Linked DNA regions of Homo sapiens. The protein of the gene in region 1 interacts with the protein of each later gene in a biochemical or structural test. Each region holds a gene or a part of one and is shown on either strand. Other genes may lie near its edges. The genes, in order: RNF168, H1-0 and ATF6.

Evidence for each region.
Region 2: the proteins of RNF168 (region 1) and H1-0 form a complex in vitro, tested with the Homo sapiens proteins (one study listed by IntAct).
Region 3: of the proteins of RNF168 (region 1) and ATF6, one has a biochemical effect on the other in vitro, tested with the Homo sapiens proteins (one study listed by BioGRID).

The regions. Positions count from the first base shown.
Region 1 is NC_000003.12:196,483,083-196,486,832, reverse strand, and holds part of RNF168 (E3 ubiquitin-protein ligase RNF168), read left to right. Parts: intron 1-2,941; coding exon 2,942-3,063; intron 3,064-3,750. UniProt on the Homo sapiens protein: E3 ubiquitin-protein ligase required for accumulation of repair proteins to sites of DNA damage. Acts with UBE2N/UBC13 to amplify the RNF8-dependent histone ubiquitination.
Region 2 is NC_000022.11:37,803,516-37,807,265, reverse strand, and holds the start of H1-0 (histone H1.0), read right to left. Parts: upstream 2,038-3,750; 5' UTR 1,722-2,037; coding exon 1,137-1,721; 3' UTR 1-1,136. UniProt on the Homo sapiens protein: Histones H1 are necessary for the condensation of nucleosome chains into higher-order structures. The histones H1.0 are found in cells that are in terminal stages of differentiation or that have low rates of cell division.
Region 3 is NC_000001.11:161,770,368-161,774,117, forward strand, and holds part of ATF6 (cyclic AMP-dependent transcription factor ATF-6 alpha), read left to right. Parts: exon of another isoform or gene 1-2,248; intron 2,249-3,750.

The DNA.
Region 1 (3,750 bases):
CGTCTCAAAGTGCTGGGTTTGTGGCGTGAGCCACCGCAAGTTGTTTAACAACTTTTTTATATGTAGGAAAGCTATTCAGTGAAGAATGAAAGCTTCCTTTTTCCTTCTTCCACCTCTCCACTCCCGTTCCTTTTCCATTTATATCAGTCTCTATCCCCAAAGGTAACCACTATTAACAGTTTCTTACAACTTTTTTCTTGCCAGGGTGCGATGGCTCGGGCCTGTAATCCCAGTACATTGGGAAGCTGAGGCGAGAGGATCGCTTGAGCCCAGGAGTTTGAGACCAGCCTGGGCAACAAAGTGAGACCCTGTTTCTTCAGAAAAATTAATAATGAGCCGAGTGTGATGGTGCGTGCCTGGAGCTCCACCTGCTGGGAGGGGCTGAGGCAGGAGGATCCCTTGAGCCCAGGAGTTTGAGGTTACAGTGAGCTGATCTCGCCACTGCACTTCAACCTGGAAGACCATCTCAAAAAAAAAAGCTTTTTTTCTTTATTGACCTAAAAAGGATTATATAAAGCAATCACACTGTTTTGCTGCTTACATTTTTTCCACTTGATAACATCGTAGAGATTTTTCATATTACTACATGTAGTCAATCTAATTCTTTTAAAGAGTGGAATAATATTCCATTTTATGGATGTAAATCACATTTTGAAAGTAAGGCACATTAAATTTTTAGATAATGTATTAAACTTGGATGTTCTGCTTCCTGTAGTTAAATTGCTGCCTGTAAGAAAATGAATTAAATGGTGTGTGATAAAACACATACTTTAAGATCAGAGGGTACTGTGGGGCCCAGTGGTTTGAACGAGCCTGGCAGAGTAACCTGGGAATGCTGTTGAAATACAAACTCTCATATTTACTCCAAATCTATTAAGTCAGAGTCTCTAGGGATGGGACCTAGGGAATACAATCTTCAGAGGCATGTAGGGAAGTGTGAAACATTCAGGTTTGAGAGCCTGTGAAAACAATTCTTCAGCTTTCAAACAACGAATATCTTAACATACACTTACCATTGAATCATGGGAAGTTCAATAGAATAAAAAAATATATATGTATATACACTTAGCAAAATGAGTATACGCAGAATTGGGAATTTTTTTCTTTTTTGAGAGGCCTACCATTAATAATAATGTACCCAAATTTTGGGTTATATGCCCCTTTTTATGTGTCTTTTTTAAGTAGAATCGCTTTAGAAATACACAATCAGGAAACTAAATAAAAGTCATTGACCAATGGAATAATAAATGGAATAGGGAAGAAGTATATCTAGTTTTCCCATGGTATTATAAGAGTAGATTTATTGATACTGTAGAATAATTTTTTTAACTTTTTTTTTTTTTGAGACAAGAGTCTCACTCTGTCACCCAGGCTGGAGTGCAGTAGTGCAACCTCAACTCCCGGTTCAAGCGATGCTCCTGCCTCAGCCTCCAGAGTATCTGGGATTACAGGTGCCGCCACCACATCCTGTTAATTTTTGTATTTTTAGTGCCGATGGGGTTTCACCATGTTGGCCAGGCTGGTCTTGAACTCCTGGCCTCATGTGATCCACCCACCTCAGCCTCCCAAAGTGCTGGGATTACAGGCATGAACCACCATGCCCAACCTAGAATAATTTTCTATTTATTTATGAAAGTTTGGTGGTTTAAGGCCAAATATTCACCATCACCATATATGAACTTTTCCATTAGGGTAGTAAGAAACTTACGAGACTGGTACAGCAAGTAAATATTTGTGATTTTTATTAATACGCCCTTAAAGTCCAGAACTAAAATATTATTACATAAAACTATTCTTTTGGGTATATCCACAGCTCTCTGAATATGTCCATATAGATAAAAGTAATTATATAAAAGTATTTATTAGAAAAATCAACAGGCTGGGCACAGTGGCACAGACCTATAATCCGAACACTTTGGAAGGCTGTGGTGGGGGAATCACTTGATTCCAATAGTTGGAGACCAGCCTGGGCAACATAGTGAGACCTCATCTTTACAAAGCATTTAAAAAAAAGTAGCTGGGCATGGTGGCACATGCCTGTGTCCTAGCTACTCGAGAAGCTAAGATGGGAGGATTGCCTGAGCCCAGGAGGTTGAGGCTACAGTGAGCTATGATCACTCCACTGCAGTCCAGCCTGGATGACAGAGCAAGACTCTGTCTCAAAATAAAACAAAAACAACCCACCTAACCAAGCCTGGTGGCTCATGCCTGTAGTCCTAGCTACTTGGGAGGTGAAGGTGGGAGGATCACTTGAACCTGGGAGGTCAAGGTTGCAAGGAGCCATGATTGCTACACTGCACTCCAGCCTCGGCGACAGAGTGAGACCCTGTCTTAAAAAAAAAAAAAAAAAAAAAAAAAAGGCCGGGCGCGGTGCCTCATGCCTGTAATCCCAGCACTTTGGGAGGCCGAGGCAGGCAGATCATGAGGTCAGGAAATCGAGACCATCCTGGCTAACACAGTGAAACCCCATCTCTACTAAAAAAAATACAAAAAATTAGCCGGGCATGGTGGAGGGCGCCGGTAGTCCCAGCTACTCAGGAGGCTGAGGCAGGAGAATGGCATGAACCTGCGGGGGTGGAGCTTGCAGTGAGCCGAGATCGCGCCACTGCACTCCAGCCTGGGCAACAGAGCGAGACTGCGTCTCAAAAAAAAAAAAAAAAAGGAAAGAAAGATCAACAGGAATTATCAGCTAATGAGGTTAGTATTATGCCTTATTTTGTGCTTGATGTACAGTAAAAATGTAATTAATTTAGACCAACTTGGATGAACATAGTTTATTCTGATTTTTGCATGGTCAATATTCTTCAAGAGATGTACAGAATTTAAATATAACTATAATTTCTGAAAAATGCTATGGATTTCTGAATTAGTCAAATTAATAGCTTATTTTATCATAAAGTTCTCTCTCATAATGTCTGTTATGCTTTTTCTATTGTTGAAGAACAATTTCTGTGAGGGAAGTATCTCGGCTTCTCCCTTGAATTCCAGAAAATCTGATCCAGTTACACCCAAGTCTGAAAAGAAAAGTAAGAACAAACAAAGAAACACTGGAGATATTCAGAAGTAAGTGAACATGACTATGAATTATTTGTTGACCTCCTACTGTATGCCAGTGTTTTCTGTTCATATAGACTACTACTGATTCTCAAAGTTTGGTCCGTGAACTTTGTATGAAAATAGTCTGAGGTTGAGGTAAATTGAAAAGGAGAGAGCTACTCACACAGCTTCCTCTTGGCTTCTCACTCAGCCACTTACTGTGGCAGATTCATACTTTTATCTTACTGCCTCAGGATTTCCAGTTTTCTCAAAGTGAACCATTGGATTCCTCTTTCTCTTGGTTTAAATTCAGATGAAAAAAATGGGTCCCAGATAGGCTTATCTTCACTGAAAGAGTTTACAATTTGTCATTTCTTCTCTATTACACAAAATGCATGAGTCAGGTAGACAAAGGTGGCGTGATTGAGTTTCACCACAACACCCCTCCAGGGTCAGGTGCCAGGTGGAGTTGGTGGCTTTACGCAAACATCAGCTTTCCCATGGTAACTCACAGTTGGAAAAGTTTAAAAACCACAGTCTAGACTTGAAAAATACATAAGGACTTCTGGTTCAACTGAGGAAATATGTGCAGGTAACTCATCTCCTTCCAAGATTTGTTGAAATTTTGTATTTGAGGTGGGAGGAAGCTTAGGAGAAGAGAATGTTAAATGAGGGAGGTACTATTAAAAAAAAAAAAAGATGTGACAATATCAG
Region 2 (3,750 bases), on another chromosome or scaffold:
TCCCAGCTCCCGGGTGTGAAACTAAGTACTAGCCCTAGATATGTATATATACACAAACACACACATGCACACAGATCTAGCTCTGTAAAACTACTTAGCAAATCCCAAATCGACTGCAGTAAGTCTTACTATCCACTGCCCGCCCACTCCCCCTCCCCCTCCCGCAGCTACAACTACTTATAATAAAGGACTCAAAAAGAGATCGGGAGGTTTTAAGTGGCCGCAGCCCCACCAAACCAAGCAAAGACACCTCTTGTACAGGAGGAACAAAAATCCAGAGGAAAAGAAAAGTCTTCCTAGGACACAATCCATCGATTGCGTGGAAAAACCTAAGTTTCAACAGGGCACACTGAGGCACTTGGCTGACTCCCCACCCTTCCCCTGAAGTTTTCACTCCGGTTTAACAAGAGAATTTGCTGAAGCCACAAAGATCCCCCAATGGCTACATCCTAGCTGACTGGGAGAAACTATGGCTTCTCCCATCCAGCTGTCACTTGGACCCCACTCCCCTTCCCTAAGAAAATAGGGAGGCCGAAAGCGCAAACTAACAAAAATGAGAAGGAAACTGGGTTTGGGCCCCCACTGCTCACCACTGGGAGGTGGAAGTCAGCCCGGTGGCGGTTTTTTTCCCCCTCCTTCCTTTGCCGGCTGGCTGCTCCCTACCACCTCTCTCCTGCTGGCCAAAGGTTCTGAAACTCTCACAACGGGTGCCCAACTCAAAGAAAACTCACTCACCCTAAAGATATTCCTGCTAACCTCACAATTCCTGGGTTCCCTCTCATCTAGCCAGAACAAACTGCCTTGTGTCTTCTCCCCACCCACATCTACCTTCATGGCAAACAAGCCAACAAAACACACAAGCCCCCCCCGCAAATCCCTAACCCCGTAAGTAGGTTAATAGCAAAACAAAATATAAGTACATTCTCATCATTAGATTGGTTGTTGCTGTCCTTGCACAACTGGTTAAGGAAAAATGAATTATTCTGTAATTTCTGAAGAATCCAAATCCTGTCTCTTATAAAGTCAGAACAGAAGGGGGCAAAAGGTGGTGGTGAGCATCAAGAGAGAAAAAAGGAGAAAATTATTTACAGAAAATAGGAGACAGGAGGGAGTGTCCGCAAGAAAAGACTTCATTGTCACTTCTTCTTGCCGGCCCTCTTGGCACTGGACTTTGCTTTGGGTTTCACTGGTTTGGCCTTTTTGGGCTTGGATGCCTTGACCGGCTTGGCTTTGACAGTCTTGGGTTTTTTGGCTTTCTTGGGCGTGGCAGCCAGCTTCTTCTTGGCCTTCTTGACCGGGGTGGCTTTGGGTTTCTTGGTTGGGGCTTTGGAGGCAGCCTTCTTGGGCTTGGATGCCTTCTTTGGCGTGGCTACCTTCTTGATTTCCTTCTTGGTCTTCTTGAAGGCCACTGACTTCTTGGGTTCGTCGCTCTTGGCTAGCCGGAAGGACCCCGAGGCCCCCACCCCTTTGGTCTGCTTGAGGACACCGGTGGTGACCAGGCGCTTGATGGACAACTTGATCTGCGAGTCAGCGTTCTCACCCACCTTGTAGTGGCTCTTGATATACTTCTGAATGGACTGGCGCGAGGAGCCAGCGCGGTTCTTCTCGGCCTGGATGGCAGCCACGATCATGTCTGAATACTTGGGGTGGTCTGTGGACTTCTTGGAGGCCTTGGCCCGCTTGGGCTTGGCCGCAGGGGCGGACGTGGAATTCTCGGTCATGGTGGCCTGTCTGGTCCGGCTGTTGAAGGCGCCTTCCAAAGGGCCAGCCCTCGTCGGAGGCTGAGCAAAGCCTGCCTCGGGATCTGCTCCTGAGCCCCTGACTACCGGGCCAGTCTGGAGTGCGGCTCCCGGGGATGCGAGCGAGGAGTCGCTGCTTTTCCTCCCCGGCTCGGGTGTCGGGAGAGCTCGCCGAGCCGGCTTTGCGAGGCCCAGCCCCGCCGGTCTGTCGCTTGGTCTCGGCACCGGGCTCGGGCTCTGCCTCTGCCTCTGCCTCTGCCTCCGCCTCCTCTGCCTCCCTTTTCCCAGCTCCGCGTCTGGCGCTTGGGCGGCGCATCCGGGTATTTAGCGGCGGCGGGCGGACCGCGGTGAGGACAGGGCTGCTGGCTGCCTGCTCCCGGCCCGGAATGGCGCTGCGCCGCCGCCATCTGTGTTTCTTCCGCCGAGCAAATCCGACCTTTCCCCCCGGCCCGGGCCTTCCTGCTCCCCGCCGCCGCCCTGGGCCGCTGCCTGGCTCCCTGGGCTTCCCCGCCGGGCGGCCCGCTGGCCCGGCCGCCGCCCCCCGCGCCCGCCACGCACCCCAAACGGCGCCGAGGACCGCTGGTGTGCCGGCACATTTCCCCTTTGCGGGGGGCTGGCTCTGCGGGGCTAGGGAGCCTCGGTGCGGGAAACCCCCCGTAGCAAAGCTCTCCCCTGAGGCTACCGGGGGCTCTGCTCCCGGCCCGCTGCGGGGTCCCCTAGCCCGGTGGAGCTGCCGGAAAGCGGCCCCAACTAACACACGCGGCCCCGAGCTGGGCGACTCCCAGCCGGGCCGAGCCGGGACAGGGGGGAGGGGTCGCTCCCCCGGGGTCCGGTCACCTCTCGGGGGTCACCCCGCCACCGGTCCCTCCACACCTCTACCCCCTCTGTCCATGGGGCCCCCAAGGAAACTTTCCCTGAAAGAGTTGGAAGGGTACTTTCAAACTTTGTCCCTTCCCCCTCCTCTGCCGTCTCTCCCCCAGCGCGCCCCCCGACCTCTGCCTTGAGGTTCCCTCCTGAGGCCGAACCCCCAGTGCTGCCCGGACCCTCTGAGAGATGAGGAGGGCCTCCCGGGTGGCCTCTTCTCCTCAAAGACCCCTACATCTCCCATATACCCTAATCGGGAATTCATTTGTGTGCTTCTCTTAGCCTGGAAGTTTTGGGGTGTCAGAGACAGAACTCGCTGCCCCCCATCCGTGAGGCCCAGCCTGGGGGTTCAGTCCCCGTCCCAAGGCTCCTTGAAGGCAATGTGGGGGCGGGGGAGGGCGGTCCACAATGGAGAAGCTGCCCCAGAAGCTCTAACCAGGGACGGTCCGGGGGGCCCCTGTAATGAGGAGAGGCCCTGAGTGCTTTGGGGACTTGGGAAAGCGGGGCGCTAGGGTAGAGGTCGAGGAGGGGGTTATGTCCCTTGGGTTGTGACCTGTCCTCGGAAAGTGTGGAGTTGTTTAGAGAGCCGTGGCCGCGACCACCGCCATTTTGCTGGGAAGATGCGATGTCTTTGTTAAAATGCACACAGATTTTCCCGTGCTGCTTGGCAGGTGTAGACGAGGCGGACACGGGGCGCCACTGTCTGTAGGGAGTTCTGAAGCTCGAGGGGCTTTAGGGGCCCAGAGGCCAGCAGGAGAGACCTCAGAGACCCTAGGACCCCTTGTCTGCGGCCGACCTCCTACTCACGTGCCGGGTCCGCTTGGCAGCGGCCCTGGGCTGAGATTCTGCGACGTTTGCTCCCTGGGCCCCTCTCCCACAACCCCGCTTTTATTCCCTAAGCATAGAGGCCGGTCACTGTTCACTTAAACAATACCCTGGGAGTGGGAGTTTGTTGCTGGTCAAAATGATGAACGCATCCCGGTATGGTCCAAGAGCTGTTTGCAGACACAGTGGGCTACTGGGGAGGGGTAAAGGGGAGGGGTTCGAGGGTTTTGATGTTGGGGACGGGATCGTAGCTGCGTGGGTGTGGGAGGGCTCCTACTGGACCTGGGAGTCTCTGAAGCCAGGACAAATTAATGGGTTTCCC
Region 3 (3,750 bases), on another chromosome or scaffold:
CCACAGACTGCGTGGTTTAAACAATGGAAATTTATTTTCTCCCAGTTCTGGAGGTTAGAGTTCAAGATCAAGATGGCCGCACCTTCAGGTTCTGGTTAGGGCTCTCTTCCTGGCTTGCATGCACATGGCTGCCTTCTTCTTGTGTCCTCACATGGCACTGAGAGAGAGAATCTTCTTCTTCTTATAAGGCCACAGTCCTATCAGATTAGTGCCCCACTTTAATGACCTCATTTAACTTTAATTACCTCCTAAAGACTGTATCTCTCGATATAGTAATATTTGGGGTTAGGGCTTCAACATACGAATTTTGGAGGACACAGTTTAGGCCATAAATTCACAGTTTGCTTATCCACTTACCTATTGAAGCACATCTTGGTTGCTTCCAACTTTTGGCAATTATATATAAAACTGCTGAAAACATTTGTGTGCAGGTTTTTGTGTGGACATGCATTTTCCAATTGTTTGGGTAAATATCAAGGAGCACAATTGCTGGATTGTGTGGTAAGAACATGTTTTTTGTTTGTTTTGTAAGAAATTGCCAAACTGTCTTCCAAAGTGGCTATACCATTTTGCATTCCCGCTAGCAATGAATGAGCATTTTTGATGCTCCACATCCTTGCTAACATTTGGTGTTGCCAGTACTTTGGATTTTAGTCATTCTAATAGGTGTGTAGTGGTATGTTTTAATTTGCAGTTTCCTGATGACATATGATGTTGAGCATCTTTTCATATGCTTATTTGCCGTCTGTATGTTTTACCCTCCTCTCTCCTTCTCTCTTCTCTTTTACTCTTGCTTGAATTTGTGCAAAAGCTGCTTTATTCTGCTTTCTTCTTTCTTCCCTCCTCCTCCTCCTTTCTCCTTTCTCCTTTTTCCTTCTCTTTATTCTTCTGTCAGCTGTACTTAAGATATGTGTATCAAGATCAGAAGCTTTCGTCTGCCACTGTGGTTTCGTTTATGTCTTCAGTCTCTTCTGTGAAGGTTCTCTTGGCTTTCTAGCACTAAATCAAAATCTGGTGCTCCTGGATGACACAACTTCCCGTAATGCCCCGGTGAACGGTTGCTAATTTTATTCTCAAAACCTTTTCACCATAGGGCCTCTGTTGGTGGGATAGGTGTCTCCATTGTCCTTCACTGCTATTCTCCTTTCCTCCTCCCTAAAAATATCTAAGTTGAAATCTCATTTTGTCACAATATCCCATCCTCTACCTCTCCTGATTCCTGGATCACTCTCTTTCACTTTTCTTTTTTTCTTTTAGAGATGGGGTCTTGTTCTCTTGCCCAGGTTGGAGCTGGAGTATGCGGTGGAGCAATCACAGCTCACTGCATCTTCAGACCCCTGGGGTCAAAGGATCCTCCTGCCTCAGCCTCCCGAGTAGCTGGGACTACAGACACATGCCACCATGCCTGGCTTCTTTTTGGCTTTTTGAAAACATTTTGCCACTAGCTTACTGTTACTTTCTTCACCATTACTTCCATCATGATTCTTGGATGATTTCAGTATCCTTAGAGAAGATCCTTCAGATACACTGACCTGTCATTTTCTGGACCTCCTCTTTATCACTGATCTTACCTTTTACCCAGTCTCAGCCATTTGCTTTCCTGATCATAAGCCTAAGTCTTGTCACTACCAATAACATCTCACTTTCAAACATCCTGCTCTGACTGCCTTCGCCTGTTTTACCAGCTTACTTCCTTTAGTATTCCAGTTTCAATAGTTGTTCAGTCCTTCTGAGATTTTGCCATGTTTCCAGTGTCTCTCATTCTCTTCAGTTCATCACGTCCCTCTTACCCAGTTTAAATACCATGGACAGTCATTGTCACTATTTCCTTCCTTTCACCTTTCATATTCATGTCTGTCTCTTTTCTGGTAGGTTTCTCTTGGATAAACCTATTAGTTAAATTCAGTTTTGCCCACTTCATGCCTGTCCTAGTATAGCTGAATCAGCTGAAGAAAACACTTCAACTGTCCTGACTGGTCTCAATTTAAGTGTTGCCAGACCAATCATATTTCCCTGGTCCTCTCACTGTCCCATTCTGATGATTGCTTTATAAAGTTTCTTCTATCTTCAAACCTCCAACATCTCTCCCATCCTTTGAATCAGAAGAGAACTTCTACAGTCTCCCACTACCTCATTTACCCACCTATCAACATGTTTGCTTTCTCTTTTGTTGGTGAGAATGAGTGGCTTCTTGCTCCTAGCTAGAGCCAGTCCTTCCATATGTGCTTTAGATTCTTCCTGTTTTGTTCAAGAATATTGCTCAAGCTATTCTTCCTCCTGTTTCCTGCATCAGCATTTCCCCTCTCTACTAGATCATCTCTGTCAGTAAATGAACATGTTGTTGTTTCTCCTAGAAGTACTGTTTCTATATCTAGATAGTACTCTAGCTAGAGTTAAAAAAAAAAAAAACAAAACCAACAAACTCAAAACTCTCTTCAGATGTTACTTCACCTCTTGCTGTTACTGCATTTCTCTACTGTATGTTACAGCAGAATTCCTTTTAAAAAATGTCCACGTTCACTGACTCTAGTTTTTTATTTCTCCTTGTCTCTTGAACCCAGTCCAGTCAGGTGCCACCACTCCACTGAAACTCCTGTTTTTTTTTTTTTTTTTTTTTTGAGACAGAGTCTTGCTCTGTTGCCCAGGCTAGAGTGCAATGGCACGATCTTGGCTCACTGTAACCTCCACCTCCTGGATTCAAGCGATTCCCGCCTCAGCTTCCTGAGTAGCTGAGATTACAGGCGCCTGCCACCATGCCCGGCTACTTTTTGTATTTTTTTTTTTTTGAGACGGAGTCTCTCTCTGTTACCCAGGCTGGAGTGCAGTGGCTCACTCGGCTCACTGCAAGCTCCACCTCCCAGGTTCACGCCATTCTTCTGCCTCAGCCTTCCGAGTAGCTGGGACTACAGGCACCTGCTACCACACCTGGCTAAATTTTTTTTTGTATTTTTAGTAGAGACGGGGTTTCACCGTGTTAGCCGGGATGGTCTTGATCTCCTGACCTCATGATCCGCCTGCCCACCTTGGCCTCCCAAAGTGCTGAGATTACAGGCGTCAGCCACTAATTTTTGTATTTTTAGTAGAGATGGGGTTTCACCATGCTGGCCAGGCTGGTCTCAAACTCCCGACCTCATGTGATCCACCCGCCTCGGCCTTCCAAAGTGCTGGGATTACAGGCGTGAGCCATCATGCCTGGCCTGAAACTGCTGTTTTTAAGGGCACTACTGATTTCCACATTGCTAAACCCAGTGACTGTGTCTGATCTTATTAAACTTATAAGGAGTAAATGAATAAATAAATGGGCAAGGTGGAGGTGAGGTGGGAAAGTTTGTTGAGTACACTAAAAATAGTAACTACCATTATTTACTACTGTTGAGGGAAATCTAATAGTGTGGGACTGGTGCAAAGGATATAGAAATAGGCAATAGGTTTTAGGATACTTTGGGGTAACTGATGCTAACAGTTTCTTATGGATTCTTTTGGAATGTTCTATAAATATACGAGTATATTTATCAACCCACCTTCAGTTATTTTTTTAACCACAGAAAAGTCAAAAGATCAGTACACTGATAAACGTGCGTTTTCCTTATCTAGATTTACCAACTGTTAACATCGTGCCACATTCACTTTATATCTTAATATTACCCACACTTTCCTCCTTTTTCACATCTGAAAGTGGGCTGCAGATAATATGAAACTCCTAAACACTTCACCATGTATTTCCTAAGAATGAGGAAATGTTTATTTTTA